3 separate regions of the Homo sapiens genome follow, and all the other regions are linked to region 3. The links come from fine-mapping of genetic effects on plasma protein levels. A gene starts in region 3. Each other region holds a variant in brackets. All regions are shown on one strand. Distances are from middle to middle.

Region 1 (10,071 bases), 11 kb after region 3:
AGATGGCTGCTGCCACCAGGTGGACACCAGCACTTTTAGTCTTCAGTAAACCAAGCCCCAGCATCCTCACAGACTTCCTGGGAGTGGTCTCCAGGTAGTCAAAAGCTGTCCCTCTGAGTAATCAAGAGAGGGACAAGAAGACCCTAAAGGTGAGGTCTCAACTTACTTGTGTAAGGAGAATTATCTATGAGACCAGACTTGCCCTATGAAGTGTTCCACTTCCATTTAATATGAGAAATCTGTGCATTTTCGATTCTGCCCTTAGTACTTGAGGGGAACCTGACAGGTGGGGCTTTAGTTTTTACAAATAAGGCAAATAGTTGTCCAATTAATCAAATGGATGGATTTAAACTGGTGGCATTGACCTACATGATCTCCACTATACATTCCTGCACTTACGTTCAGCAATTCAAAGGTTATTTGATTTGGGGGGCATTTTGGACACTAGGACAATTATTGACATTTTTCACAATTATCAATCACACCTTCTGCAGAAAAAATTTAAGTGATTCCAGATGATGCATAAATTATGGCATCTAGCTGCTTTGAATAAAATGGCTAAGAAAAATATGAGCATAAAAATCCTTTGCTAGGTGACACAGTTTGGCCCTATCTCCACCCAAATCTCAACTTGAATTGTATCTTCCAGAATTCCCAATGTGTTGCAGGAGGGACCCAGGGGGAAGTAATTGAATCATGGGGCCCAGTCTTTTTCCCATACTATTCTCATGATATTTAATAAGTCTCATGAAATCTGATGGATTTATCAGGGGTTTCTGCTTTTGCTTCTTCCTCATTTTCTCTTGCCGCCACCATGTAAAAAGTGCCTTTCACCTCCCACCGTGATTCTAAGGCCTCCCCAGCCATGTGGAACTGTAAGTTCAATTAAACCTCTTTTTCTTCCCAGTCTCAAGTATGTCTTTATCAGCAGTGTGAAAATCGACTAACACAGTAAATTGGTACCAGTAGAGTGGGGCGTGGCTGAAAAGATACCCAAAAATGTGGAAGCGACTTTGGAACTGGGTAACAGGAAGAGGTTGGAACAGTTTGGAGGACTCAGAAGAAGACAGGAAAATGTGGGAAAGTTTGTCACTTCCTAGAGACTTGTTGAATGGCTTTGTCCAAAATGCTGGTAGCAACATGGACAATAAATCCAGGCTGAGGTGGTCTCAGATGGAAATGAGGAACTTGTTGGGAACTGGAGCAAAGGTGACTCTTGTTATGTTTTAGCAAAGAGACTGGTGGCATTTTGTCCCTGCCCTAGAGATTGAACTTGAGAAAGATGATTTAGGGAATCTGGTGGAAGAAATTTCTAAGCGGCAAAGTATTCAAGAGGTGACTTGTGTACTGTTAAAGGCATTCAGTTTTAAAAGAGAAGCAGAGCATGAAAGTTTGGGAAGTTTGCAGCCTGACTATACGATAGAAAACAAAAACCCATTTTCTGGGGAGAAATTCAAGCCAGCTGCAGAAATTTGCATAAGTAGCAAGGAGCCTAATGTTAATTCCCAAGGCCATGGGGAACATGTCTCCAGGCCATGTCAGAGACCTTCAGGGCAGCCCCTCCCATCACAGGACCAGAGGTCCAGAAGGAAAAAGTGGTTTAGGGGGCCAGGCCCAGGGTCCCCATGCTGTGCGCAGCCTTGGGACTTGGTGACCTGTGTTCCAGCTGCTCCAGCCATGGCTGAAAGGGGCCAATGTAAAGCTCAGGCTGTGGCTTCAGAGGGTGGAAGCCTCAAGCCTTGGAAGTTTTGAGTCTCACAGGGGCACCAGCTGCTGGGTCCATCCCGCAGACCCTGGCCAAGCGACAGATGAAAGGAGTACTCAGACACAGGCATGCAGTGTAAGAGCAGCTAGGGGGCTGCTGGCACTAGGGACCAAAGAAAAGAGCAGCCTCGATAAGCTGGAGCTGCTTGCTTTTATTTAGTACAGGCATAATGCCGAAAGCCTGGAGCAAACACAGTCTGTGGGTAATTAACATTTATTATTCTCCTTTTAGGGAACTGGTCACGCGCGGATGATCAAAGGTCTTTTTCTGGTCAAAATGAGTAAACAAGCCTATTTAGATAAATTCCCCTGCACTCCCTTGTACCTACTTCTCACCCACTGCCTCAGGGTAAGAGAACAGCTGCCTTTATCTTATTCTCCCTGAAGCTTTGCAGAGCCTTCTGACCTTTCCAAAGGTTTGTGCCCTTTGCCTATAATTTCTCCCACCACTTTGACTGATCTCCTACAGTGTTGAGCCTGCAGATGCACAGAAGTCAAGAGCTGAGGTTTGGGAACCTCCACCTAGATTTCTGAAGATGTATGGAAATGCCTGGATGCCCAGGCAAAGGTTTGCTGTAGGAGTGGGGCCTTCTTGGAGAACTTTTGCTGGGGCAGTGCAGAAGGGAAATGTGGGGTTGGAGCCCCCACACATAGTCCCTACTAGGGCACTGCCTAGTGGAGCTGTGAGAAGAGGGCCACTGTCCTACAGACCCCAGAATGGTAGATCCACCAACAGCTTGCACTGTTGTGTGCCTGGAAAAGCTGCAGACACTCAGCGTCAGCCCATGAAAGTACCCAGGAGGGAGGCTGTACTCTACAAAGCCACAGGGACAGAGCTGCCCAAGACCATGAGAACCTACCTCTTGTATCAGTGTGATCTGGATGTGAGACCTGAAGTCAAAGGAGATCATTTTGGAGCTTTAAAATTTGACTGCCTGGCTGGATTTTGGACTTGCATGGGCCCTGTAACCCCTTTCTTTTGGTCAATTTCTCCCATTTGGAACAGCTGTATCTACCAAATACCTATACCCCCATTGTATCTAGGAAGTAACTAGCTTGGTTTTACAGGCTCATAGGCAAAAGGGACTTGCCTTGTCTCAGATGGGACTTCATACTGTCAACTTTTGGGTTAATGCTGAAATGAGTTAAGACTTTGGGGGACTGTTTGGAAGGCATGATTGGTTTTGAAATTCAAGGACATGAGATTTAGAGGGGGCAGTGGCAGAATAATAAGATTCAGCTGTGTTCCCTTTGAAATCTCAACTTGAATTGTATCTCCCAGAATTCCCATGTGTTGTGGGAGGGACCCAGGGGAAGGTAATTGAATCATGGGGGATGGTCTTTCCCATGCTATTCTCACGGTAGTTAATAAGTTTCATGAGATGTGATGGGTTTATCAGGGATTTTGGCTTTTGCTTCTTCCCCATTTTCTCTTACTGCTACCATGTAAGAAGTGCCTTTTGCCTCCTGTCATGATTCTGAGGCCTCCCCAGCCATGTGGAACTGTAAGTCCAATTAAACCTCTTTTTCTTCCCAGTCTCGGGTATGTCTTTATCAGCAGCATGAAAACAAACTAATACACCAGGCATAAGAATGACACAGTGGACTCTGGGGACTCAGGGGGAAAGCGTTGGGAGGGGGTGAGGGATAAAAGAGTACAAATTGGGTTCAGTGTATACTGCTTGTGAGATGGGTGCACCAAAATCTCACAAATCACCACTAAAAAACTTATTCATGTAACCAAATACCACCGGTTTTCCAAAAATCTATAGAAATAAAAAAAAACTAAAAATCCTTTGTTGTGTTTCTAACTACTAATATGTAACATATTTTTGTGCCCCACAATGATTACAGTTAATAATCAGCACAGAGGAACTCTTAAAGGACATATTTTGCCTCTAGATCAAGCCTAATGCCCTTCTGTAGGCAGCTGGGAGGTTTTGTAGCTGTTCCTTAAACAACATCTTTCTTACCTTACCATGAAGTCATTAGCTATTGACACCTTAGAAATTAGAGCTGAGAAAGTCTTTAGACCTATTAAATGAGAGTGACCTGTTTTATGTGAGCACATATTCACCATCTCTCTCTAGCCTTTGAATTACTCACCCTTTGTCTCACACCTCCCTGGAAGTATCTGTTCCCTTTCTTTCTCTCCTTTTCTGTGGTCCTCTCTGCTTCTTGAAGCCAAACCAGGTCAGGCTGTGAACTGAAGAGGTACCAAGATTTCCCCTGTGCAGCTTTCTGCTGGACTCTTCCTAGAAGCATGCATCAGTTACTGCCAGATTTAGTTTTGGATTGTGGTATCACTTTTCATCTTTTTCCACCAGAGTAAGAAAAAAATACTGTATTTTCTCTACTAGAATGGGAGAGCTGGGCCTAACTTTAGCAAACGAGTACTTGTTGAAATGAAACACTTCAACAAACTTGAGGGAAGTCACTAAAGAAGTCAGTTTCCTCATCTTTATTTCAGGTGATAATAATGGCTACTCCTTATTGAGGACTATCGAGATCAGATGGGGCTGGGAGCAGTGGCTCATGCCTGTAATCCCAGGACTTTGGGAGGCCAACACAGGAGGATTGCTTGAGTCCAGGAGTTCAGGACCACCCTGAGCAAAATAGCAAGATGCTGTCTCTGCAAAAATAAATAAACAAACAAACAAATAAATAAAATAATTTTAAAAAGATCTAATATAGTAATAATACACAGTGAAGGGCTTTGACAATGATATTGTGCTATGCAGATTCATAGTATGATTATAAATCAGGTAGACAGATAAACTTGATGAAACAGGAAGGAAAAACTCTTCATACATCAGACTGGTCTTCCTGGATAAGGTTGCCACATGCTATCTCAATGGAGTCACAGATGCTTCTGAAAACTGGAAATATGAGTCTTGCAACCAAATCTGGGAAAGACATGAGCCTAAATCAGCCTGATCACTGCAAAATATGAAATCACATCACTGCTAAATATGGAAATTTGTCACAACATTTTGTTAGTGTAAGTTCTAAGCCTAAGACAAATTAAGTTGTTGAATTTATTCAGATAATTGTTTTAAAGGGAGAGTGAAACAGGTTTCTGGCCCCTTTTTTGTTTTCAGATCATTTACATTGAAAGAAGGGGGAACATGTTACTAAATCAAACCTGCCCCATGGGCAGGAGTCTAATTCTCTATCCCTCCCTTTGTCACACTCAGATGACACCGTCCTTCTGTAGGGTTTGTCTCCGCCATGTTTGAAATGGTGTACAAGTTCTCAGGATGAGCTGGTTATGGGATGCCTATACTGTTTTTCCTCTTCCAGTGCCCCAGTGGAATTTCTTCCCCTTGGTCATTCGGGAGCGGCAGCCTGTGTTATCTCAGAGTTTTCCAAGTGGTGACCCCAAAGGACTCCAGAGCAGGGCCTGGCTTGGGGTAGGGAGAATAGAGGACATTGGGCTAGAAGGGGGAGATGTAGGGATTCATGAG[G/A]CCATTAAATTAGCAACATATTGCCAGGCACAGTGGCTATAATCTCAGTGCTTTGGGAGGCCAAAGCAGGAGGATCACCTGAGTCCAGGAGTTCAAGACAAGTCTGGGCAACAAAATGAGACCCTGTCTCTACAAAAAAAACTTTAAACTTAGCTGGGTGTGATGGTGTGTGCCTGCAGTCCTAACTATTTGGGAGGCTGAGGTGGAAGAATCACAGGAGCCCAGGAATTCAAGGCTGCAGTGAGCCATAATTGTGCCACTGCATGCTGGCCTAGGTGATAGAGTGAGACCCTGTCTCTAAAAAATATTTATTTATTTATTTATTTAGAGATGGAGTCTTTCCAGGCTGGAGTGCAGTGGTGTGATCTTGGCTGACTGCAATCACTTCCTCTCAGGTTTAAGTGATTCTCAAGACTCAGCCTCCCAAGTAGCTGGGTTACAGGGGCTCACCACCATCCCTACCAGCCAATTTTTGTGTTTTTATTAAAGAGAAAGTTTTTCCATGTTGGCCAGGCCGGTCTCAAACTCCTGGCCTCAAGTGATCTCCCTGCCTCAGCCTCCCAAAGCGCAGGGATTACAGGCATGAGCCACCGTACCATGCCTAAAAAATATTTTAAAAGAAAAAATAAAAATTAGTAATATTTATTGTAAACAAATGTACAATTCATTTTCAAATGACCGTAGATAGCATTGTGGTAAATAAAATGCAACTGTATTTAAAGGCATTACCAATCCCATGTACTATTGTGCCACTTTTTGTTTTCTTTTTTCTTTTTTTGATAGAGTCTCACTTTGCTGCCCAGGCTGGGGTGCAGTGGTGCAATCTCGGCTCAGTGCAACCTCTGTCTCCTGGGTTCAAGCGATTCTCCTGCCTCAGCCTCCCACGTAGCTGGGAATACAGGTGCCCACCACCAGGCCAGGCTAATTTTTGTATTTTCAGTAGAGACGGGGTTTCACTATGTTTGCCAGGCTGGTTTCTAACTCCTGACTTCAGGTGATCCACCTGCCTCGGCTTCCCAAAGTGTTGGGATTACAGGCATGAGCCACCGCACCCGGCCGTGTGGCACTTTTTGATAACATAGGTTAAGTGAATACATTTTTTTGAATCAATGACCTGTTTTGGACTCTGGCCCATCGTTCACTAGCTGTCTGGTTTTGAGTGATCTTTTATTTTCTCCTCTCCATAATGTGAATAATAACAGTACCTGTCTCCTAAGCGTGATTCAAGGATTACATGAGATTATCCACACAAATTCCAAGGAGTAATAGCTCAAGTGGTAGCTGCTGTCACTCTTACCATCACATTGTTTCTCAGTCACAGTTTGTGATTGAGTGCTGCGACGGGCAGGTCTGCACAGAGTGTGGATGTTGTAAGAGGATCCTCATCCTTGGCAAGGTTGACAGCCCCTGGTCTGGATGAAGCCTAAGGTGAAACCTTGAATGTTCCCCCGCAAACCTCTTTGTTGACCTTATCCGTAGCTTTCTTCCAGCACAGGCAATTACATTATAGGTTCTCTCCCTTCTGGGAACAGCGCTCTCCTTCTGGGAGAATAGTTGCTCCTCCTCCAAACCCAGCTGCATGTTTCAGAGGCCTGGGCCATTCATCATAGAATCCTGCTCTTTGGCCATGGTTGACAAATCCAATGGCAGGAATGCGACTCAAGACCAACCTATCATATCTCTCCCTGGGATTGTTCGCACTTCTGCTTGGCTTGGAACTGGTGACACCCGTGTTTCCCACGAAGTAGAGAAAATTAGTCCGAGAAAACAAAGTACAAATGCGGAGAAAAGCTGAGGTGATACAAAACCAAGCATGATGGTGACATTCATGTTCCTTAATCTATGAGACTGGGTGGTCGTATTAATCATGTGCTTTTATTTTTTCAACTCATGCTGTTTTGATACCTTTGGGAACCTGATAAATTCAGGGAGAGACAGACCTCCCTGGGTTAGCTAATTCCTAAAGATGACACAGTATGTTTGGGATCACGCCTGTCACATGTAAACCAACCATTCCCTTTATCTAACTCTCACATACCAAGCCAGTATTAACCCTTACCCTAAATCTACCTGGAGACAGGACCAGACAGCCACACCACGTGCCCCAGAGCCTGCTGGAATTATTAAAACCAGCACATCCGAGACCATATTCTCCATCCAGCCTCAACTTTCCCTCGGAAACGATGATAAGGGCTCTGGCCTAGGTGTTCCCTCGCTCCTGCTTTCACCACCTGACCCAAACCTCATGTTTCTCCTGCTGAAGCCCTGTGTGCTGTGGCATGCTCCTTCTCTTTGGAAAGGTGAGTACAGTCATGCCTGGGTATTTAAGGAGGATTAGTTCCAGGACCTCCATGGGTACTCAAATTTGCAGATGCTCAAGTCTCCTCTGTAAAATGGCATGGTATTTGCATATAACCTATGCACATCTTCCTGTATACTTTAAGTCATCTCTAGATTACTTACAATACCTAATACAACATAAGTGCTATGTAAGTCATTGTTATAGTGTATTATTTATTTGCATTATTTTTCATGGTTTTTTTTAAATTTTTTAAAAAATATTTTTGATCTGCAGTTGATTGAATCCACAAATGTGAAACCTGTAGATACGGGGGTGTGGGGAGGAGGTAACTGTAGTAAATTATTTTTTCAATGGCACCAGCCTCTTTGTGTCATCATTCAGTCACGTTCATGAGTTAAAATCCCACAGGTACGTTTTGGGACAGTTGAGCAGCCGGCAAGGTGACTCAGTGTTCCATAAGGACCGTGCCTCCTTCTGCTCTTGGCTCGTTAGCTGACTGTGCCAACCACATATACTGTATTATCTTTAGGAATTAGCTAATCCAGGGAGGAATTAGCTCTACTTGGGAGGGCATTGCCGGCCGGTGGGGTGCCTGTGCTTTGGCTGCCATTGCCTTGTGCTACCTCTGCTGTGCCCTTTCACAGTTTTCTAGTCTAAACTGTGGCAAGGGAAGGACCTCAGATCTTGCTTTGCACAGGTAGTAGTACCATTGGGAGTGAGAGAGGTCCCCAGTGCACACCTTACTGGACCAAGTGACCAGGCAGATGTGAGGTTAAGCAGGCAATTTGGGTAATTAGTACAGTAAACGCTTTCTGGAGAGAGGAGGAGCAGGGAGTGGCTGCCCCTAGGGTGCTTTGAGGGCACCGAGACTGATGACCTGCCTGCCAAGACCGTAGACAGGGCTCACCATAGAGAATTCAGGAGCTGGGCATTCAGGCCCAGGCACAACTCCCTTCTTGTAACAAATCTTCTCTTACTCTGGTGGACAAAGTCCTGGACAAGTGAGGTCCTCCTTGAACAGTCCATCACAGGTTGACATTGACTGTTGGGCCCCTGAGCATTGGGACTCTATGAAGATACTCACCCATTTGATTCCAAATTTAGACAGGCCCATCTCTAATGGTTGGCGGCGAGGTGTAGGGTGTCTCCCCATGGAAAACTGTGACTCCTAGAAACCTTAAATATTGCTATATGGGCAAATCTCTTTGTTGTTACTGGCCTTGCTGCTATTGTGACCTGAGCCCATGACCCTCTATACTCATTATGTTTTGGGTCATAGGTACAGTACCCACAAGCTTCACACAGCTACTGAGGGCATCTTAGACAGGATGGAGCCAATACTGGGTCCTTGGGCATATTCTATCTCTATAGGGTTGTAGCTTTGTTCATTCTCAGTCACCTGGTAGATGTCATTGTGCTACAGGAGATTATAGGTCTCAGAAAACTGGTGTTGTTGAGATACAAAATGGCCTCCTCAAACAACTTCTTTTAAAATTTCAGGCCATCAGATAAACACCTAAATGAGTTTCTTTTTTGCCCAGGACTTAAGGTGTCTTTATAAAAATTCCATCTTGCCTCCATCACGTAAGGGGAGGAGGCCAAATGTAGGGCCCAAACTCTACAGGGATCAATTACCATAAATTGTCCCAAGGGCTAGGCAGATATGAGACTGATTTCTTCTATCATAATTGAAGCTACCTGGTGTCATCCTGCACACCATTCTGTTGACTTTTGATTTTATTACTCTTGGTCTGTGCCTTCCCAACAAAGCTCATATAGAGGCATGGTCCCCAATGTAATGATGTTGAGAGGCATTACAGGCATTTGGGTCAGGAGGGATCTGTCTTCATTAAAAGATTAATGTTGTCTTGTGGGAATGACTTCTCACTCTCATGAGAGTAGATTAGTTAACACAAGAGTGGGTTGTTATAAGGCTAGGTCCCATTTGTGTTTGGTTTCCTTTGCACATGCCTGTTCACTGCTCTCACAGGCATTCTCACCACTTGATGCTATCCACCATGCTATGTTGCAGCATGAAGCCCTTCCCAGATGCAGCTGCCCAATCTTAAACTTCCCACCATCCAGAACAGTGAGTCGAATAAACTCCTTTTCTTTATAATTACTTGGTCTCAAGTATTCAGTTATAGCAACAGAAAATGTACTAAGAAGTCAGTCTGGGTTCTTTCATTAATTTATGATCCAATGGCTCACACCCTCCTAATAAGCCATTGCTTTAACCAAACATGGCCAATGGTAAGACTCACATCAACTCCACTGGGTACTTAGTTGGGAAAGATATGGCCTTCCAAATGGACATGGCCCTTACTCAGAAGTTTATCACAAAAATAACACCACCCCAGACAACATCACCTCTTAATTTGATGTCAAAATGTCGGAGTGATGAGGTATCACCACTACAGCAATCATCAAAGTGTGAGCCATAGACTCACCTGGTCAGGTCTAGGAAAAAGAGCCAAACCATGTTCATCTTATCTTCCCTTGAGTGCCTGATACTTCACCTTGCTGAGAGTGGTTACT
Region 2 (10,071 bases), 29 kb after region 3:
GGATTACATCCAGCACTTTCCCTGCAGGAACCGGCTCCCTCGGAGGGGCGTGGCTGGGAGGAGCTGTGAGTAACGTGCCACAGTGTTGTAAAAACCCAGTGAGTGTTATAAAAACCCAGTCAGCCTGGCTCCTGTTGAATAGTCTACCCCCCTTGCACTCTACCTGACACAGCTGCAGCCTGCAATTCACTCGCACTGCCTGGGATTGCACTGGATCCGTGTGCTCAGAACAAGGTAAGAGCCTCGCTCCTTTAACAGCTTTATTACCTGCTGCCACTTCTCACTCCACCAAGGGCCTGGAGTTCCTTGGGCCTGCATTCCATCATGGGCAGGTGGGGGCTGAGCCCCAGGGCCGTGAGAAATGACTGGGTGTTTTTCTGGCATATCCAGTCTCCTCTTCACCATTTATTGCTGTTCTCTGCCCTTTTGTGATTGTCTTTCTCCTTCTTAACCCTAGAAGATGGCCAACTTCTAGGGTAGAAATCAGATCAGGACCATTTCCTGGGTCTGCCTCTTTTTATAAAAAATTCTGTGTTTTGTTTTAAATGGAGCACAAATAATACAAATCATCTTATCATTATGTGTTATATGAAACTAAATTGTCATTGTTCATAGTTGTTTTTCTTATTCTTTGGCAATGTTTTTAAAGGGCAGAGTAAATGTGAAAAGCAAAAAGTGATCAACCAGGGGTGACAGAAAGGAATAAGGAGATTGATCTGGCTACCCATACCAGCTTTGAACTTGCCCACTATGAGATCCTGAGCAATTTACTTACCTGTCTGAGCCTTAAGAGTCAGAGCTGTCACCTGGGATGACATATTAATAGCTACCTGGAAGAGCTCTTGTGTGGATTTCACAAGGTGGGAATCAAACCCTAGACCAGTACTTAGCACACAGGAGGTGTCATATAGAAACTGACTTCTCTTCTTCTGTTAAGCATGGGTTTTTATTGTACACATGATCAGATTCATGCAGTTCAGTGTGACGTTGGTGTTCATCCTATTGATTCAATGATTTCTCATGATCCTTGTCTTCGATCTTGTAGTGTGAACTATCTGGTTGAAATTCACCTCTCTCCACCCTGATTCACTTTGCCCAGGCAAATCAGACAACCACCCCACCTCACACCTTTCCTTAAACTCTTACTTCCCCACAAAAAGCTCCCCCACCCCCACAACCCCACCCACCCCACCCAAACCCCAGGCATGTTCAACTCTGGGTCAACATCACCTTTCATGATGCTTACCACATCCTTTCTCATTTTGGGCATCTGTCATGTCTTTTCTCATTTTGGGCATCTGTGTCCATATGGAGTCATGAGATAGAAATCCAGCCCTTTGGAGCTGAAAGTTTGGAGCAGTAACTTGTTTCATATCAGAAACAGAGATGACGGGATAGATTCCCTGATCAATGCTATTTAAATTCTCCCAAAGAGTGGTCTCTAAGCTCTTTCAAATCTGAGGCTTTCTCAATCATGGTGATTTCTTCAACACCTAGTCTGGTGGGGGGCATATAGTAGGTGCTCAGTAAATGCTTGTTGAATGAGTGAATGAAAGAGTGAGGAGTGAGCAGATGCAGGAGTTAATGAGTGAATAAATGATAAATGAGAGTTCGTGAGGCTCCAAAGAGTGGTACTTTTGTGACACTCAAGACTCAAGTCAAGTGGAAATGTGAGTAGACAGGCTGTTTGTCTAGTGACTCCAGGAGCCAGAAGCGTTCTTGGTCTACTCTGAAATCATGTAGGCACCTGTCAGGGTAGGGGGAGGCCAGCGTGTAGTCCTGCACAGCTGAACTGCTGCCTGCCACTGACTCACTTGCCTTTTGTCAAACAGGTGAACGCCCAGCTGCAGCCATGAAGATCTGTAGCCTCACCCTGCTCTCCTTCCTCCTACTGGCTGCTCAGGTGCTCCTGGTGGAGGGGAAAAAAAAAGTGAAGAATGGACTTCACAGCAAAGTGGTCTCAGAACAAAAGGACACTCTGGGCAACACCCAGATTAAGCAGAAAAGCAGGCCCGGGAACAAAGGCAAGTTTGTCACCAAAGACCAAGCCAACTGCAGATGGGCTGCTACTGAGCAGGAGGAGGGCATCTCTCTCAAGGTTGAGTGCACTCAATTGGACCATGAATTTTCCTGTGTCTTTGCTGGCAATCCAACCTCATGCCTAAAGCTCAAGGATGAGAGAGTCTATTGGAAACAAGTTGCCCGGAATCTGCGCTCACAGAAAGACATCTGTAGATATTCCAAGACAGCTGTGAAAACCAGAGTGTGCAGAAAGGATTTTCCAGAATCCAGTCTTAAGCTAGTCAGCTCCACTCTATTTGGGAACACAAAGCCCAGGAAGGAGAAAACAGAGATGTCCCCCAGGGAGCACATCAAAGGCAAAGAGACCACCCCCTCTAGCCTAGCAGTGACCCAGACCATGGCCACCAAAGCTCCCGAGTGTGTGGAGGACCCAGATATGGCAAACCAGAGGAAGACTGCCCTGGAGTTCTGTGGAGAGACTTGGAGCTCTCTCTGCACATTCTTCCTCAGCATAGTGCAGGACACGTCATGCTAATGAGGTCAAAAGAGAACGGGTTCCCTTAAGAGATGTCATGTCGTAAGTCCCTCTGTATACTTTAAAGCTCTCTACAGTCCCCCCAAAATATGAACTTTTGTGCTTAGTGAGTGCAACGAAATATTTAAACAAGTTTTGTATTTTTTGCTTTTGTGTTTTGGAATTTGCCTTATTTTTCTTGGATGCGATGTTCAGAGGCTGTTTCCTGCAGCATGTATTTCCATGGCCCACACAGCTATGTGTTTGAGCAGCGAAGAGTCTTTGAGCTGAATGAGCCAGAGTGATAATTTCAGTGCAACGAACTTTCTGCTGAATTAATGGTAATAAAACTCTGGGTGTTTTTCAGAAATACATTCAAACATTGCTTGGTTTTCTCTGTGTCTGGTCCCAAATAAACTCATTAAGTAGTCCCCATATATCAATGGAAAAACAATCTAAACAGGAACTTCCAGTTCCCCACCCTTCGCAAGTTATCTCTTTCTGGAATCCTTCTTTATAATTGTATCCATTGGTCAGTGGTGTTTGGTGTTTATTGAAGTATAATAACTAGGATCCCTGTTTTCAGGTGGGACACCTGGTATATAATGTGATTAAATCATTTGTCAGGGACTCATAGATGGTAAGAGGGCCGGTAGGATTGGAACCCAGGAGCTCTGACAGCTGAGTCTACAGGGTTGAGGAACCTCCGCTACTGATTCATGTCAGAGCTGCCCATTCCCTCCCCCACCCGAAAGACCCCGGCCTTGCAAAGCTCAATTCTGGAGAAGAAATGAGTTTCATTCCTTCATTCTTCATTCTTGGAGAAGAAAGGCCTAGTTAAGTACAGTGGCCCAAGATAAGGGCTATAAAGGAAGGGGGAGAGGGCTACAAGGAAAACCAGAGAGAGAAGGCAGAAACTGCTGTAAGATCTGGGCTTGAGTGTAACAGGGGAGGGAATAGTGGAGCTGGATTTTGGAAAGAGTATCTGTGGGAATAAAATGGGGCAAAGTGGAGGCACTTTAGGCATTTGATAACATGAATGAAAGTGAATAGATGGGAAGTTTCAGATTCTGGGAGAGGTCAGGTGTCTGGGATCGGATGGGATGCAGCGATGAGACTGCCATTATTCATTTATATGTTAGTATGAAGGATCTGAAAGTTGTATTTTAAGAGTGGGGGAGAGAGGATGAACTGTCTCCAATGCCTTGTCACAATTCCACAACCAGGGAAAGGAGGAGCAGAAGCTGACGAAAGCACTGTTCTTTAGCATGTCTGATGGTGGCAGGGAGGAATGGCAGGTGGGGGGGAAGGAAAGCCTTTTACATTCACCAACCTACTGGGATGCACACTGAGGACGTCAGAGGCCAATCCACAGTGCCACAGCCTCAGAGTGACATTTGGATGTCATCATGATCATCAATAAAAAGAGCACTTATCTCTTACCTGCTATGAGCAAGCACTGTTCCAAGTTTTCCCATGGATAGTGGATTTATTCATTCACTCACTCACTCAACACATAACTTACAGAGCACTGACTCACTCCAGGTTGTGTTCCAGGTGCCAGAGATACAGCAATGGATGTACAAGAGACGAGTGTTCTGCCCTCATGGAACAGTGGGAAAAGTGATGATGAGCTCATGATACATGATACACGATAGAGAAGACTATTAAAGCAAGGGAAGGGGATAAAGTGATCGAGGGTAATGAGCTTTAGATGGGGTGGAGAGGAAAAGCCTCTCTGTGGTGGTTACTTTTGAGCTTAGACCTAAAAAGAGGAATCTCTTTTTAGCCAGGGAACTCTCCTGGGTAAGCATGTTCCAAACAGAGGGACCAGTCAGAACATATGCCCTGAAATCATGGTTAATCTATTTATTCAATCCTATTTGTCCCTTCTTTTTGCCAGGAACTCTACCATAGGTGAGAAATAGCAATGAAGGAAAGAGAAAAAAGAAATCCCTGTCTTCATGGCACTTCCATTCCCATGACAGGGATCATGCTTGGCATGTTAGAGAAATGTCCAAGAGGGTGGGGTCATTGTAGGATGGGGCCTGGGGCCTGACCTGTGAACCTTACC[A/G]CCAACTCCAAGAGCACTGAAGCAACATTCCAGACCCTCCCCAAGCTCCTTCAAGCCACAGCAAAGAAAGGATATTTTCCCTTAAGGTCTACACAGGTTCTCAGCCCTGTGGCCCCCTCCTCCACATATGTAACATAGCCCTGAGATAGAAAAAGAATAATAATCTCCTCCAGGAGTCACTCAACAGTCATCAGGTTTGTTATGGGTTGGCAAGAACATTGGAGAACAGACCCAAAACCTCCTTAAACTCCTCCAGGCCCGCAGTTGCTGGTTTGAGTTCACTCCTGGCCTCTGGTCACTGGCAGAACTGGAAGGAGTTTTGCCTCTACCATGGAAGAGTGACCTGGATCTCAGCACAAAGTTTGCTTCTGCTGATAGATAACCAGTCTCAGGGCCAATTATTTAATCTTCTGAGCAGAAATGAGCTCATCTTGACAATGGAATCATGAAACCCACCCATTATTAAGGGTCCTGAAACACTGACATTGGTCAATATCTCTGAATCTCTTAATACTATGCCAATAGTTAGATAATAGTTGTTCAACACCACTGACCACTTAAAGTCCACAGCAGGAGACTGAATTGTAGAGGGAAGTCAAAATTCCCAGTGAAAACTCTCTAACTGTGGAAGGTTTTTGGTTTTGTTTATTTGTGTCTGTAGTACAAGTGGCCAGGAGCCACCATTATGGATCACCCACTGTGTGCCAGTGGTTTTGCTCCATTGTCTCGTGAATCCCCCACAACTCCATCTGGTAGGAGTCTCACCTTCATTTTCTAGATGAGGAAAGTGAGGCTGAGAGAAGCCGAGGAACCTTCCCAGGGTTATGAAGTTATTAAATGGCAGAGCCTATAATGGGAATCCCTGGCCTGGAGGTCCCAAGCCCTTTCTGCCTCTGAAGTGCATGATTTTCTTCACTCAGTGATAGAAGAGTGACATTTATGGTCTCTGGATGTAGGCCAAACTTGACAATGAACAATATCCATCAGTCCATTCCACATATATATCTTCTTCCTGTCCTTACAGAGAGAAAGTTCTAGAAGTGAACACTTCCATTGCACTCAGCCTCCGATCATAGTCATATGCTGAGGGGATGTTTTAAGAACACAGTAAAAAGAAATATGTAAATAGAGGCTCCACAGATTTACATTGACTTTCTTTTTTTACCTTTTTTCTTTTTCTTTTCCTCTTTTTTTTTTGAGACGGAGTTTCGCTCTCGTCACCCAGGCTGGAGTGCAGTGGCATGATCTCAGCTCACTGCAACCTCTGCCTCCCAGGTTCAATCGATTCTCCTCTCTCAGCCTCCCGAATAGCTGGGATTACAGGCACCTGCCACCACGCGCAGCTAATTTTTGTATTTTTAGTAGAGACAGGGTTTCAACATGTTGGCCAGGCTGGTCTTTAACTCTTGACCTCAGGTGATCCACCCGTATTGGCCTCCCAGAGTGCTGGGATTACAGGCATGAGCCACCGTGCCCGGCTACATTGACTTCTATTCACCTTAGTGCTACATATTTTCTCCCTGAGAACTTTCTGGATATGAAGTAGAGAAGCCAACTTTCTCTGTGTGTGTGGTCTTTAAGATATGACTTGTTTTGACAGCAAAAGATGGAAATTTTTCGGTAGGTAAGATGTGCTGAAGATTGGCATGTCTGTACCCCCTAAAGCCACTCAGAAGTGGGAATGTCTCTCTTTCCTTATAAAACCACATCTCGGCAGAAAGAGGGTCTCTTCCTTCGGGCACCCCAGCTCTGTGTGGTAACTCACAGTCACACCAGTGCTGACTTGAATCTCTGGAATCCAACAGATCTCACCTAGCCTCCTTCCCCAGCCTCTCTCCGAAGTTGTTTTTGGCAGAAATGGCAGGAATGCCAAAGTGTTTGGGGCTGAAAGCTTTCAAGCAGATATGACACCAGCCATCCTCTGATGTGTTGGTTTGCATAATGTGCTGTGTACAATGCTCACCATTTCATGCAGCAATATCCAAGAAAATCTTTTTGAGACTCCCTCTGAAGAATGGGAGGGATGGGGAGAAGATTCTAGAAGAAGGCTGGCTTGGGACCTGGAGCGCTTGAGGTGAGCTCTCCAGGGGGAGTTTCCATAAAGTAGTTGAAAATGTGTGATATGGTTTGGCTGTGTCCCCACCCAAATCTTATCTTGAATTGTAGCTCCCATAATTCCCACACATCATGAGAGGGACCCAGTGGGAGGTAATTGAATCATGAGGGGCAGGTGTTTCCCATGCTGTTCTCATGATAGTAAGTCTGATGACATCTCATGATTTCATAAAGGGTAGTTCCCCTCCGCAAGCTCTCTCTTGCCTGCAGTCAAATAAGAGATAACTTTGCTCCTCATTTGCCTTCTGCCATGATTGGGAGCCCTCCCTAGCTATGTGGAACTGTGATTCCATTAGATTTCTTTCCTTTATAAATTACCCAGCCTCAGGTATATCTTTATTAGCAGCAAGAGAACAGACTAATACAATGTAGGTAATAACAGCAGAAATGAAATCTGTCTTGTCCACCATCATAGCCCTGGTGCTCAGTGCATGCCCAGCACACAGTGGATCCTCCATAAATATTGGTTGAGTATATGAAAGAGAAGGAGAGAAATCACTGCAGGGGCAATGATTACGGGCTCCAGAGTAAAAGAAAAGTGACCTGTAACAAGTTATTTCATCTCACATTTTCCATTTCTAAAATGGGTCTGGAATATGCATCCAATAAGAACTATTCATAATTAAAACCTAAATCTAGGTCCTTACACATATGTATTCTCATTAAATTTTTGTTATAAGTAAGTGAATGAAGGAACCAATTAGCTGAGACAGGAGATAAGAAGGCAATTTTTGAAAAAAAGCTACACCAGACTCAAGATAGGCCATGCCAAGGACCTGCCTGTGAGATGGAGCCTGGCTGTGTGCAGCATGATCATGGGGTTCCTAAAGCCTCTACCCAATGGGCCTTAAGAACCCCATGCTCATGAAGTTCACAGAAGCACTTTGCATGACGAAGGAGGAAGATGGAGACAAAGCTGGCGCCTATGAGTAGCCTCTGCGACTTTCTTAACCTGACTTCCAGCTCACTTCCTACAGGCTCCTCCTGCTCAGGCTCCTGGGTGGCTGGTTGTCCTGGAGACCCTCCTGTGGGTACAGCAGCCCCTACCTTCACTGCTCTTAGATCTTGGTGCTCAGGGGAGCCACTGATAAGAATCAGGATGCCACTTGCTGTGGGCGCTGGGTGAGCAGAGAATGGATCTGCTTCGCTTCCTACTCTATTCTTAGCACCCACGCAGTGCATGGCAGCTGCTCAATAAACCTCAGAGGTTACCGAAGCGTTTCTCAACCTCGACAAAGTTGAGAGTTTGGGCTGATAATTCCCTGGAGTAGGGAACAGCCCTGTGCATACTTGGCTGTGGAGTAGCATCCCTGGCCCTAGTACCTAGATGACTGTAGCAACCTTCCCCCTGTTATGACAACCAAAAATATGTCCAGAAGTTGCTAAATGCCTCCTGGAGATGAAGTTACCCACAGTGGAGAACAACTGGACTACGGTGAAGTTGTAGCACATTCACAATTCACTTAGGCTCCTTCAACAATATGTGTCCTGCTGTGGAGGGGGAAAGAGAGAAGTGTAAAGACATGAATACTGTAAGCAACTTAATCCACCCTTGGATGCAGTGAAAATGTGCCCGGGGTGTACTTAAGATAGCGGATGGGAGTTTGCTTCTTTTCTGTCTGTCTCTGGTCTTCCAGTGTTTAAAAATAGGTATTTTATTTTTGCTCTAAATGCAAACCAATGCCTTTATCTGGTACCCAACAAAAGAAAGGTTGTCAAATGTGATTTTGACTAAAATAAATTTTACAAACATAAGCACTGCCTCCAGAACCTGACTGCCAGGCACAATGTGATTTAGTAGTGGCACATTTGCTACCAAATGCTGTCAGCACTAGCTTCCGAAGTAAAGCAACAGCCCCCTCCCATTGAAAGTAGCCAAGGTGAGTGATGTCATAGGAGAGTCCCAGAGTTATCTAGGGCCCCTCAAAGCTGAAAGTGCCACCTCCTTCTACACCCACTCCCATTAACACAACTGTGAATTCAGTTCCTGGAATTGTCTTTCCTGGACTGAGTATGAAGCTTGCTCTAAGCCAAACATTGGTAGCCCCAGGGTAGGCTGGGGTTTTGCAACGGCAGGAATCCAAGGACCCAGATGGACCATCCTGGCATATGTGCCCATGTTGTTGGAAAAGCCCAAAGCCAACCCCTTAGTCGCTGGGAAACCAGGCAGGGCAAGGGTGGGGAGGGGAGTGGTCATGGCTTCAGAGCAGAAGCAGGTGTGGGGGCCAGACAGGACAAAAGAGTTCTAGCCAACATTTATTAGGTGCTTCCTGCATGCTAGAGGCAGTGGTTCCCAGCCCTGGTTACAGGTTAGAATCACCTGGGGAGCTTTAGAAAATCCTGATGCCCAGGCTGCACCCCAGAGCAGTCCCATCAGAATTGTAGGGGTGGACAGCTCAGGAATTTTTAAAGCACTCCGAGCGATCGCACTGGACACCCAAAGTGGAGGTCCACTCCTCTGGGCACTGTTCAAACTGCTTTCCCTGCATAAGCTCTTTCATCTTCACGACCACCCTATTGTCAAGACTGTCCAGGGAGTGTAAGGAGTTTTGTCACTTTCCAGGGTCACAGAGTTAGTAAGAGCAGAGCCTGGAACCTCCCCGGGCAGCTGTGCTCTCAAGCACTCATACTGGAGCAGAGGAGTCTGCCGGGGAGGCAGCCCCAGGCAGTGGAATGAGCAGAGCCCTGGGTTTCAAATTCATTCTGCCTCCCACTGTCTGGGGAGGCCTCAGACAGTCATTTCATTTCTCTGATTGTCTTAGCCTTCTTGTCTGTGCTTTGGGGGAATGTTATCACCACGGCAGAGTGCAGGGAGGATTCGGTGAGATGGTGTTTATGAAGCTCCTGACAACATTTCTGGGACATAGCCCAGTGCTCGGTTATTTATCCTTATTATTAGACCACGTTGCCAAAAATGGGTCAGCAGGTGGAAAAGCAGATATTGAAAAGGATCATCAAGAGACATTGACATCCTGGGCCAGGCACAGTGGCTCACGCCTGTAATCCCAGCACTTTGGAAGGTTGAGGCGGGCAGATAACCACAGGTCAGGAGTTTGAGACCAGCCTGTCCAACATAGTGAAACCCTGTCTCTACTAAAAATATAAAAAAAATTAGTCAGGCGTGGTGGTGGGTGCCTGTAATCCCAGCTACTCAGGAGGCTGAGGCAGGAGAATCACTTAGACCTGGGAGGTGGAAGTTGCAGTGAGCTGAGATCGCACCACTGCACTCCAGCCTGGGCAACAGAGTGAGACTCTGTCTCAAAAAAAAAAAAAAAGAGAGAGAGAGATTGACATGCTGAGGGGCAGGTGTCAGTAGTCAAATGCAAAGGCAAAACAGAGGCAGCGT
Region 3 (10,071 bases):
CTGTGACCTGCCTTCTGTCCCCACCACTCCTGAAGGGCTATTGTCGGGGTCACCGAGGACTTGACTTTTGTGAACACATCCCCTTTACAAAGATCTCCCTTCAGGCTCCCAAAAGAGCCCTCTCCAGTGTCCTCTTGGGGCATGGCTGTCTATTCCTCAGTCTCCTTCCAACACTCATCTCTCCAGTTCTTAAATTTAGGTGGCATTCGCAGGTTCTCTCCTGGTGTGCCCCTCACTCTCTCCTTGGGTAATTTCATTCACTCATCACCTCACCTGCTCCCTTTGGTTCTCTCATCACATAGAGCTCCAGCCAACCCTGTGTTCATGACATGTCTCCACCCAGATGCACCTTAAACCAGAGGTTGGCAACCTTTCTCTGAAAAGGGTCAGACAGTGAATATATTTTGCTTTCTGGGCCATGTGGCCTATGTCTCCTCAACTCTGTTGCAGCACAAAAGTAGCCATAGGCAATACGTAAGTGAATAGATATTGCCGTGTTCTTCAAAAATTACAAAAGCAGGCCACATGGGCCACAGTTTGTGGCCCCTGCCTTAAACCACTGTCCTGACCTGCACATCGCCACAGGTTCTCCCCACCATGTTCCCTTTCTTGAATTTCTCCACCTTCACCCTATCACTGGAGCTGGAGGAACTCTTAAGTCTGCTTTCCCCCTCCCTTCCATCTACCTTTGGTCACAAAGCCTTCCTCTCCATCCCCACTGATGAGATCCTCTTACAGTTTTCATAATGTCTCTTGGCTAGCGAGGCATTCCCCTCTTTCTTTTAGGCTTCCAGCCCCCTGAGTTTTGGCTAGACATAGGCTACCTGGTGGGGACTATATTTCCCAGCCTCCCTTGCAGCTAGATGTGGCTGAGTGACTAGGCTTAGGCCAGCAGTAAGTAAGTGAAGTGTCTACTAAGACAAAACTGCAGATCCTGGACTTGTTCCACTGGAAATGGCAGCAATCAAACAAACCTTGGAAGGCATGTGTTAAATTTGAAGAACTTCCAGGCATGAACCTGGAAGACTGGTTCATAATAGAGAAGGTCTTTTTGTTACAGCAACTCAGCCCATACAGAGCCAGCTTGCCCACTACCCTCCCTGTACAAAGTCCCCCTGTCCACCAATCCTTTCTCAACACAGCAGTCTCTTACAGTGCAAATCTGATCATGACACTCCACACTTAAAAGATGAACAAGCAAATAAGAAAGAAGAGAAATTGGGCTGAGCATGGTGGCTCACACCTGTAATCCCAGCACTTTGGGAGGCCAAGGCAGGTGGATAATCCGAGGTCAGGAGTTCAAGACCAGCCTGACCAATATGGTGAAACCTTGTCTCTACTAAAAATACAAAAATTAGCCAGATGTGGTGGCATGTGCCTATAGTCCCAGCTACTCGGGAGGCTGAGACAGGAGAATTGCTTGAACCCAGGAGGCGGAGGTTGCAGTGAGCCAAGTTCACGCCATTGCACTCCAGCCTGGGTGACAGAGCAAAACTCCGTCTCAAAAAAAAAGAGAGAAATCACTGCCTTCAAGAGGATTAAAGCAGGATGAAGTGATAGAGGAACAGAAGAGCTCTTTTACATTGTATAGCGAGGGAAGGCCTCTGTGAAGGTGGCAGGGAGAAGGCAGCCATGCGATGTTCAAGGAAAAGATTTTCAGGCAGTGGGCACTAGTGCAAAGGTCTTGAGGTTTGGCTTGTCCCAAAAGCGAAAAGAGGAAGAGCGTGATTAGAGCTCTTATGATAAGTTCCCATTGCAGGGTAAACTCAGCCTCACTAGGGCATTGAAAAGGGCTGGCCATAACCTCAGGGTGTCTAGATGGGTCTAGCAAGCTGTTCCCTGCAACACTGTGGTGGGTGGGGGAAAGGAGGTTGGAGCTGAACACCTGCCTTCCTGTGGCCACGACATGGAGCCTGGGTTGGAGTGCTGTTTACTCCAGGGGCTCCTGAGTTGGAAGCACACAAAGGGCAAGCCTCTGTCTTAGAACTGGCCCTGTGGATTGGTACGGGGGCTGCGGACCCCACCCTAAGTCACCTCTCCAGCCTGATTCTCACCACTGCCTCCTTGCCCTTGACATTTCAGCAGTCCATAAACCTGCACTCCAGGATCACTCCTTTACAGGAAGCATTATCCTGCCTTAAGAATCTGCCCTTGGCCAGGCGCAGTGGCTCGTGCCTGTAATCTCAGCACTTAGGGAGGCTGAAGTGGGCGGATCACTTGTTAGGAGTTTGAGGCCAGCCTGGCCAACGTCGTGAAACCCCATCTCTACTAAAAACACAAAAATTAGCCTGGCATGGTGGTAGGCGCCTGTAATCCCAACTACTCAGGTGGCTGAGGCAGGACAATTGCTTGAACCTGGGAGGTGGAGGTTGCAGTGAGCCAAGATTGTGCCACTGCACTCCAGCCTGGGTGGCAAAGTAAGACTGTGTGAAAAAAAAAAAAAACCTACCTTTAGCTGGTTGTGGTGGTTCACATCTGTAATTCCAGTGACTCCAGAGGACAAGGAAGCAGGAGGATTGCTTGAGGCCTGGAGTGTGAGATCGGCCTGGACAACAGAGTGAGACCCTGTCCCTAAAAATTTTAAATTTAAAATTTAGCTGGGTGTGGCAGCCCATGCCTGTAGTCCCAGTTACTTGAGAGGCTGAGGCAGGAGAAGTAATTGAGCCCAGGAGTTGGAGGCTACAGTGAGCTATAATTACACCAGTGCAATCCGGTCTAGGTGACAGAATGAGGCCAAAACAAACAAACAAACAAACAAACAAAAAAAACACCTGCCCTTTACCCTTTCTCAACCTGACAAATTGACTGACTTGTCTTGAAGGTTTGGCACCACTTCTTGGAAGCTTCCTCTGCTCCCCACCTGGGGTGATGCCCTCTTCTGGAAGGCTCTCACTGCTACACACACAGTGGCTGCCGAAGCTCAGCCTGGCTTTAGTTCCAGCCCTACTAGGTCTTCTCAGGACTCAGGATATCCAGGTGGAAGGAAGGCTGTGCCAGGTACCAACTACCCTACGTGGGATCGCCAAGATAAATCCCTCACATTCAAACTAGTCCCCCAACATCCGTCAACCCTATTCCTAACAGCAAATTGCCACCTTTAGTCCACTCCACAGTGCCCTCTGGAAGGGTCATCAAAAGACAGTTATGACCATACCAAACTATGATTCTTGACACAGAATCAAAAGTTATTTTCAATTTATTTTTTTTCTATTGTAGAACAATAATAATAATATTTAAAATCATATTTTCCTGTGATATAATTAAAACTGTGTTATTTCAATTGAATTTGAAATAGAATTCATGGTCTAAAATAGACTGAATCCCACTGTGAACATATATTTGCATGCCTTCCTCGTCATCATTCAGTTGGTGCAATTGTAAGGCATGCAATAACAAGGGAAGTGAACATTGCAGCACTGTGGCCTGTGGCCACGGTGATGGCGGGACAGCCCCACAGAGGCCACACCAGGTGACTCTCAGCTCGGTGGGTGGGAGGGGGAGTGTCTCTGTGTCCCTCTGGCACACACATCCTCACACAACCTCACATAGTCTTTTTTGCATTTGCTAGGCCATCTCATAACACTTAGGCTCATAAAATTCTGGCTTCCTTTGGATTAACTAAACCCATGGTCCCCCAAGATGGGGATTCCAGGGAGCAGGAGGGAGCCTCGAGGCAGCCCAGACTCCCAGCTGCAAACCTCACTTTCCAGAATACCACTGCCACACCTTGGCATATACCAAATGTTGACAAAGAAGGCTGTTCCCGTACAAGGGCCAATTTTAGAGCAAGCACCCTGTGGTTGGAAAACTGTAAAACCCTCAGCCCCAAAGCTGTGTGTGGCGCTTTGTGCGTGACAGGGCTGGGGCAGATCTCTCTGAGGCACTCAGGAAAACCATTCCCTTTGCTTGTGGTGGGCGGCCCCTGGTGGCTGCTCTGCCCTTGCCAAGTGTTACGTGTCTAAGGTCTGTGGGCATGTTTCTCATTTGCTGCAAAACATCCTCCCCACCCTTGCAGAGAAAGAGTCTTTTGTGCAGCACCCTTTAAAGGGTGACTCGTCCCACTTGTGTTCTCTCTCCTGGTGCAGAGTTGCAAGCAAGTTTATCGGAGTATCGCCATGAAGTTCGTCCCCTGCCTCCTGCTGGTGACCTTGTCCTGCCTGGGGACTTTGGGTCAGGCCCCGAGGCAAAAGCAAGGAAGCACTGGGGAGGAATTCCATTTCCAGACTGGAGGGAGAGATTCCTGCACTATGCGTCCCAGCAGCTTGGGGCAAGGTGCTGGAGAAGTCTGGCTTCGTGTCGACTGCCGCAACACAGACCAGACCTACTGGTGTGAGTACAGGGGGCAGCCCAGCATGTGCCAGGCTTTCGCTGCTGACCCCAAACCTTACTGGAATCAAGCCCTGCAGGAGCTGAGGCGCCTTCACCATGCGTGCCAGGGGGCCCCGGTGCTTAGGCCATCCGTGTGCAGGGAGGCTGGACCCCAGGCCCATATGCAGCAGGTGACTTCCAGCCTCAAGGGCAGCCCAGAGCCCAACCAGCAGCCTGAGGCTGGGACGCCATCTCTGAGGCCCAAGGCCACAGTGAAACTCACAGAAGCAACACAGCTGGGAAAGGACTCGATGGAAGAGCTGGGAAAAGCCAAACCCACCACCCGACCCACAGCCAAACCTACCCAGCCTGGACCCAGGCCCGGAGGGAATGAGGAAGCAAAGAAGAAGGCCTGGGAACATTGTTGGAAACCCTTCCAGGCCCTGTGCGCCTTTCTCATCAGCTTCTTCCGAGGGTGACAGGTGAAAGACCCCTACAGGTAATACCCTTTCCTTTACTCATATACAGAGACTACGTGTATATACTTATATACAGAGACTACGTGAGAGGCACTTAGCACTTTCACAGCTGCTGCGACCACATCAGAGTCTCAGCGTGTGTTTGGGGGTGGGTTTGAGGCTGTCTGTTGCAGAGCAGTGTAGATGAGGTAGTTCATCCGGAGTGGCACTTGACCCTGGAGTTGCATAGGAATCACCTACAAGGAGCTCTAAAAATGCTGATGCCCAGGCCCCTCGCCAGACCGTTCCATCTATGTCTCCAACATAGTAGCGCAGGAATGTGGACTTTTAAAACTCTCCCCCAAGTGATTTGAATGTGCAGCCAAGGTTGAGAATCTCCTTGTGATGGAACCACCTCACTGTTAGACCGAGGCCTTTGGAATTCTGCCGGGTAACGTTTCCTAATGAACCAAGCATTTGCTGCAGCTGTTAGTGGCCGAGGTGCTATGTCATGGTGGAGGTGTCGCCACACCCCGTCTTGTTCTCAGTTTTTTCTCCTACAGTCAAGTTAGGGTGGGGAGTGTTGTGCACTGAGGAAAGTTTGAGTCAAATAGTCTTTAAAGTCTTTCTCACAGCTCTCAAAGCCTTTAATTGTTTTTTGTTCATCACAGAGGAGAAAATCTAATTAATAATAACAGATTTAATCAACTCCAAGTATTGCTTTTAAAAGACCAAACTTTTTCTTGTGGAAATAAGGCTTATTACTGATCTCTATCCTTAAATGTAGCAGCTTTCATTAATTTTGCACACCAGTAAGGAGTTCATTTACATGGGATTCTAGTCTTACTTGTGCACTTTGAGTTTAAAAGGAGAGTTTCTGAGTTTTTTTCATATTATCTATGTAAGAAAAATAGGAACAAAGCAGATTTCCTGATAAACAGCACTTTGATAACGAATACCACCAAACAAATAAGGCTTTTTCTACAAGCGCCCAGGCAGCAAGAAATGTTGGTTCACAACAAAGTTGTTTTGGTGTCTGCTGTTCTGGGCTGGAGGTTTTCTGCTTGTTTAAGATTTCAGATCTGTCCCAGAGGAGAAAAGGGGACACTTAAGCCAAAAAAAGTTACTATTGAGAGGAGGTCCTTTTTTTTTTCTTTTTAAAGTGATTTTTTTGGTCTTTCTACAAATAAGACATACAAATCATTTGAAAAATTCAAACACAACAGAAAAATACAAAGAATTTTAAAACTTCATCCATAATCCCACCACACAGAGATAAACAATGTTAACAGAAGAGTACCCATTTAGACATCCATCCATGCGTATTTACACAGACAGATGTACAGCGTATATACAGATGCATACAGGCGCTAAAGCTCAAAACAATATCTTGATCCTGCAGATAAGCTGCATAGGACTACTGTATTAGCTTGCTGGGGCTGCCATAGCAAAATACCACAGAATGGGTGGCTTAAACAGCAGAAATATATTTTCTCACAATTCTGGAGACTGAAATTCCAAGATCAAGGTGTCAGCAGGATTGGTGTCTTCTGAGGACTCTCTCCTTGACTCATAGATGGCAGCCTTCTCTCTGTCATTCCTCTGCGTGGGTCTGTGTCCTCATCTCTTTTTGTTAGGATACCATTCACACTGGATGAAGTCCCACCCAAACAGCCCCATTTTACCTTAACCACCTCTTTAATGGCCCCTATCTTTAAATACAAACGCTCCCTGAGGTACTGGAGGTTAGGACTTAAGTCTACGGTTTTTAGGTTTTGGGAGGGACACAATTCACACAATTCAACCCATAACAACAAAGAAAGAATTTTTCATCCCTTCCTTTTTTTTTCTTTTTTTTTTTTTTTAGATCTGACCTCTCCCTGACAGACAACCATCTCTTTTTATATTATGCCGCTTTCAATCCAACGTTCTCACACTGGAAGAAGAGAGTTTCTAATCAGATGCAACGGCCCAAATTCTTGATCTGCAGCTTCTCTGAAGTTTGGAAAAGAAACCTTCCTTTCTGGAGTTTGCAGAGTTCAGCAATATGATAGGGAACAGGTGCTGATGGGCCCAAGAGTGACAAGCATACACAACTACTTATTATCTGTAGAAGTTTTGCTTTGTTGATCTGAGCCTTCTATGAAAGTTTAAATATGTAACGCATTCATGAATTTCCAGTGTTCAGTAAATAGCAGCTATGTGTGTGCAAAATAAAAGAATGATTTCAGAAATACGACTTTAGTCTTCTTAATGAACGTGATACCTAGATGCTATAGGGATCATGTATACCCATGAAGTCACTATTATTTTATTCAGGGTGCCATCGTGCATTACACAGACTAGGTGGCTTAAAGCAACAGAAATGTGTTCTCTCACAGTGATGGAGGCAAGAAGTGCCTCAAGATGTCACCAAAGTTAGTTTCTCCTGGAGGGTCTCAGGGAAAATCTGTTCAATGCCTCTCTGTCAGTTTCTTAAAGTTGCTGGAATCCTTGACATTCCTTGGCTTATAGACATATCACTCTAATCCCTGCCTCTGTCTTCACATGGAATTTTCCCTTGCGTGTGTGTCAAATTTCCCTCTCCTGATAAGGGCACCAGCCATTGGATTAGGGTCCATCCTAATCAAGAAAGACCTTATCTTAACTCCATCATGTCTGCAAACACCCTATTCCCAAATAAGATCATATTCACAGATTCCAAATGGACATAAATTTTTGGTGGGCACTATTCAACCCAGCACAGCCACCATGCAGCAATAGCAACTAGCCAAAAAGATAGAGAAGTGAACCTGAAAAAGAACAACCCTGTACACTCAGCAATTAAATTAATCAACAGAGTTGGAAAGGAAGAAAATTAGATTTTATTAGACATACGCGAAAAGTGACTCACTTCTTAATTTCGTATTTGTCTTACCTAAGAACACATTAATAGTCTACTCTCTCTCTTTTTTTTCTAATGGCTATTTATTTATTCGAGATGGGTCTCGCTCTGTCACCCAGGCTGGAGTGCAGTGGTGCAATCTCGGCTCACTGCAACCTCCGCCTCCTGGGTTCAAGCGATTCTCCTGCCTTAGCCTCCCGAGTAGCCGGGATTACAGGCATGTGCCACCATGCCCAGCTAATTTTTGTATTTTTAGTAGAGACAAGGTTTCACCATGTTGGCCAGGCTGGTCTTGAACTCCTGACCTCAGGTGATCCGCCCGCCTCGGCCTCCCAAAGTGCTGGGATTACAGGCGTGAGCCACTGTACCTGGCCCACTAGTCCACTCTTGATGTACTTAAATTGTTTCCCCAACTAGCCCAGCAGTGCCCAACCCTAGCTACATAATGGAGTCACCTGGGGCAACTTTTCAAAAACACTGGTGCTTGGACGTCAGCACCAGAGGTTACGGTGTAACTGGCCAGGGATGGGGCCTGAGCATGTGCAATTTTACATTTCCCCTGGTGACTCTAATATGCAGCCAAGTTTGAGAAACACCGCCCTTAATTAATTGAATTAGAATCTCTGGGGTGTATCCTAAGTAATTTCCAGGCAATTCTATGTGTAACCTGAGTTGAAGACTACTAATATGGCCTCTATATGTAGTTCACACAATTAAGAAATATTTATTCATCATCAACTATGTCCCAGGCACTGTGCAACACATTGGCTAGGGGAGACATGAACTAACCAACTAGGTTTCACATCTTAGAAGTGCAGTGAAGTAGTGGAAACCAAGACAACACATTGATGAGTGTTGGAGATGACACAGAAGGCGGTGGGTGGGGGCAGCCAGGGGACGTTTGCTGGGGTTGAGTTTCTAAAATATATATACATCAAGCATCTACTGTGACATACCAAGTCTATTTCTTATAAGGGCTCTGAGCCTTTCACTCACCCCCTCATATAGCTCTCACTACATCCCTAGGAGGTAAGTAGTTTTATTCCCAATTATAAACCAAGGGACTTGAAAGTCTGGAGAGGTGAGTTGTACACAGCTTGTTAAGAGTCAGGACAGCAGAGAAATCCAGGTTCACCCAATTCTAATGCTCATGGCGTTCAATTTGTAAACATCACAGGATAGGCTGGGATTTGTCACAGACCATTTTTCACCAACATTTTAAACTAACATCACCATATAGCTGACCAGTGATTTTAAAGATGAAAATCTGTGCTACCCAAAGGGTGACAGGTGGGGCAGAGGCATCTGCTTCTGCTGGGGAGCTTTAGAAATGCTAATTCTTGGCCGGGGACGGTGGCTCATGCCTGTAATCCCAGCACTTTGAGAGGCCGAGGAGGGCAGATGACCTTAGGCCAAGAGTTTGAGACAAACCTGGCCAACATGGCGAAACCCTATCTCTACTAAAAAATACAAAAAATAGCTGGGCGTGGTGGTAGGTGCCTGTAATCCCAGCTACTCAGGAGGCTGAGGCAGGAAAATCACTTGAACTAGGGAGGCGGAGGTTGCAATGAGCCAAAATCATGCCCCTGCACTCCAGCCTGAGCGACAGAACAGGACTCCATCTCAAAAAAAATGCTAATTCTCAGGCCCCACCACAGACAAACTGAACCAGAGTATCTGGGGTGAGGCCCAGAAATGTGTATTTTAACATTTCCATGTGTTTTATGCAGAGTAACATTGGCCAAGCAATATTTCAGTCATCCTAAAAGGAAAGGCTTTGTTAAACCTTAAAGCAGATAATTCTGACATAGGCTACAATATGGACGAACCATGAGTACATTATGCCAGATAAAATAAGCCAGTCACAAAGGACAAATACTGCATGATTCCACTGATATGAAGTACCTAGACTAGTCAAAAATCACAGATACCAAAAGTAGAATGTTGGCTGCCAGAGACTATGGTGAGGTGAGAATGGGAAGTTAGTTTAATGTTTACAGAGTTTTAGTTTTATAAGATTAAAAGAGTTCTTGAAGTGGACAGCAGTGATGGTTGCATAACAAATGTAATTAATACTACCAAATTATACACTTAAAATTGTTAAGATGGCATATTTTATGATATACGTATTTTATTTGAATTTTATAAAGAAATTTTAAAAAAGAAAAGGAAATTCTTTTCACCAAAAGGTGCTGAAATAACAGCATATCCATGAGAAAAATATGAATATCTACTATTACTTGATACAAAAAAATGAACTGAAATTTGTTTATACACTGAAATGTAAAGGGTGGTTTCTCCCTAATACTGGGGGTGCTCCTTTCCTTCGACAGTGACATAATCTATTTGTTCTAATTCAGTAACTGCTACATCCATCTTTATTAATCAAGTACTCACCCACACCCAGGCCTTCCTCATTGA

Direction of the effects. Positions count from the first base shown, and alleles are read on the strand shown. Strength reflects both the effect of a copy and how common the allele is.
For the plasma level of the protein whose gene starts at base 4,070 in region 3, A is the high allele of the variant in region 1 and G is the other (moderate association).
In carriers of allele A in region 2, the plasma level of the protein whose gene starts at base 4,070 in region 3 tends to be lower than with G alone (weak association).

Evidence for each region. PIP is the chance, under the fine-mapping model, that this variant and not a neighbour inherited with it causes the effect. The UK Biobank Pharma Proteomics Project read protein levels with antibody pairs (Olink). The fine-mapping took linkage between variants from a reference panel, not from the people measured, so its PIPs are less certain.
Region 1: its variant is fine-mapped to the plasma level of the FGFBP2 protein (UK Biobank, PIP above 0.99).
Region 2: its variant is fine-mapped to the plasma level of the FGFBP2 protein (UK Biobank, PIP above 0.99).

What each region holds. Positions count from the first base shown.
Region 1 is chr4:15,945,802-15,955,872 of GRCh38, reverse strand. No RefSeq gene overlaps it. Among named protein-coding and RNA genes, the nearest start is that of FGFBP1, 12 kb to the right of the region's middle. The variant G/A (reference allele first, on the strand shown) is at 5,232.
Region 2 is chr4:15,928,414-15,938,484 of GRCh38, reverse strand. It overlaps FGFBP1 (fibroblast growth factor binding protein 1), which reads left to right. Exons shown (of 3, transcript NM_005130.5): 2 at 14-234; 3 at 1,833-2,908. The coding sequence starts at 1,853. The coding sequence ends at 2,557. Among named protein-coding and RNA genes, the nearest start is that of FGFBP1, 5.3 kb to the left of the region's middle. The variant A/G (reference allele first, on the strand shown) is at 4,611.
Region 3 is chr4:15,957,174-15,967,244 of GRCh38, reverse strand. FGFBP2 (fibroblast growth factor binding protein 2) reads left to right here and starts at 4,070. Exons shown (of 2, transcript NM_031950.4): 1 at 4,070-4,807; 2 at 6,634-7,000. The coding sequence starts at 4,116. The coding sequence ends at 4,787. RefSeq lists an enhancer at 3,199-4,040.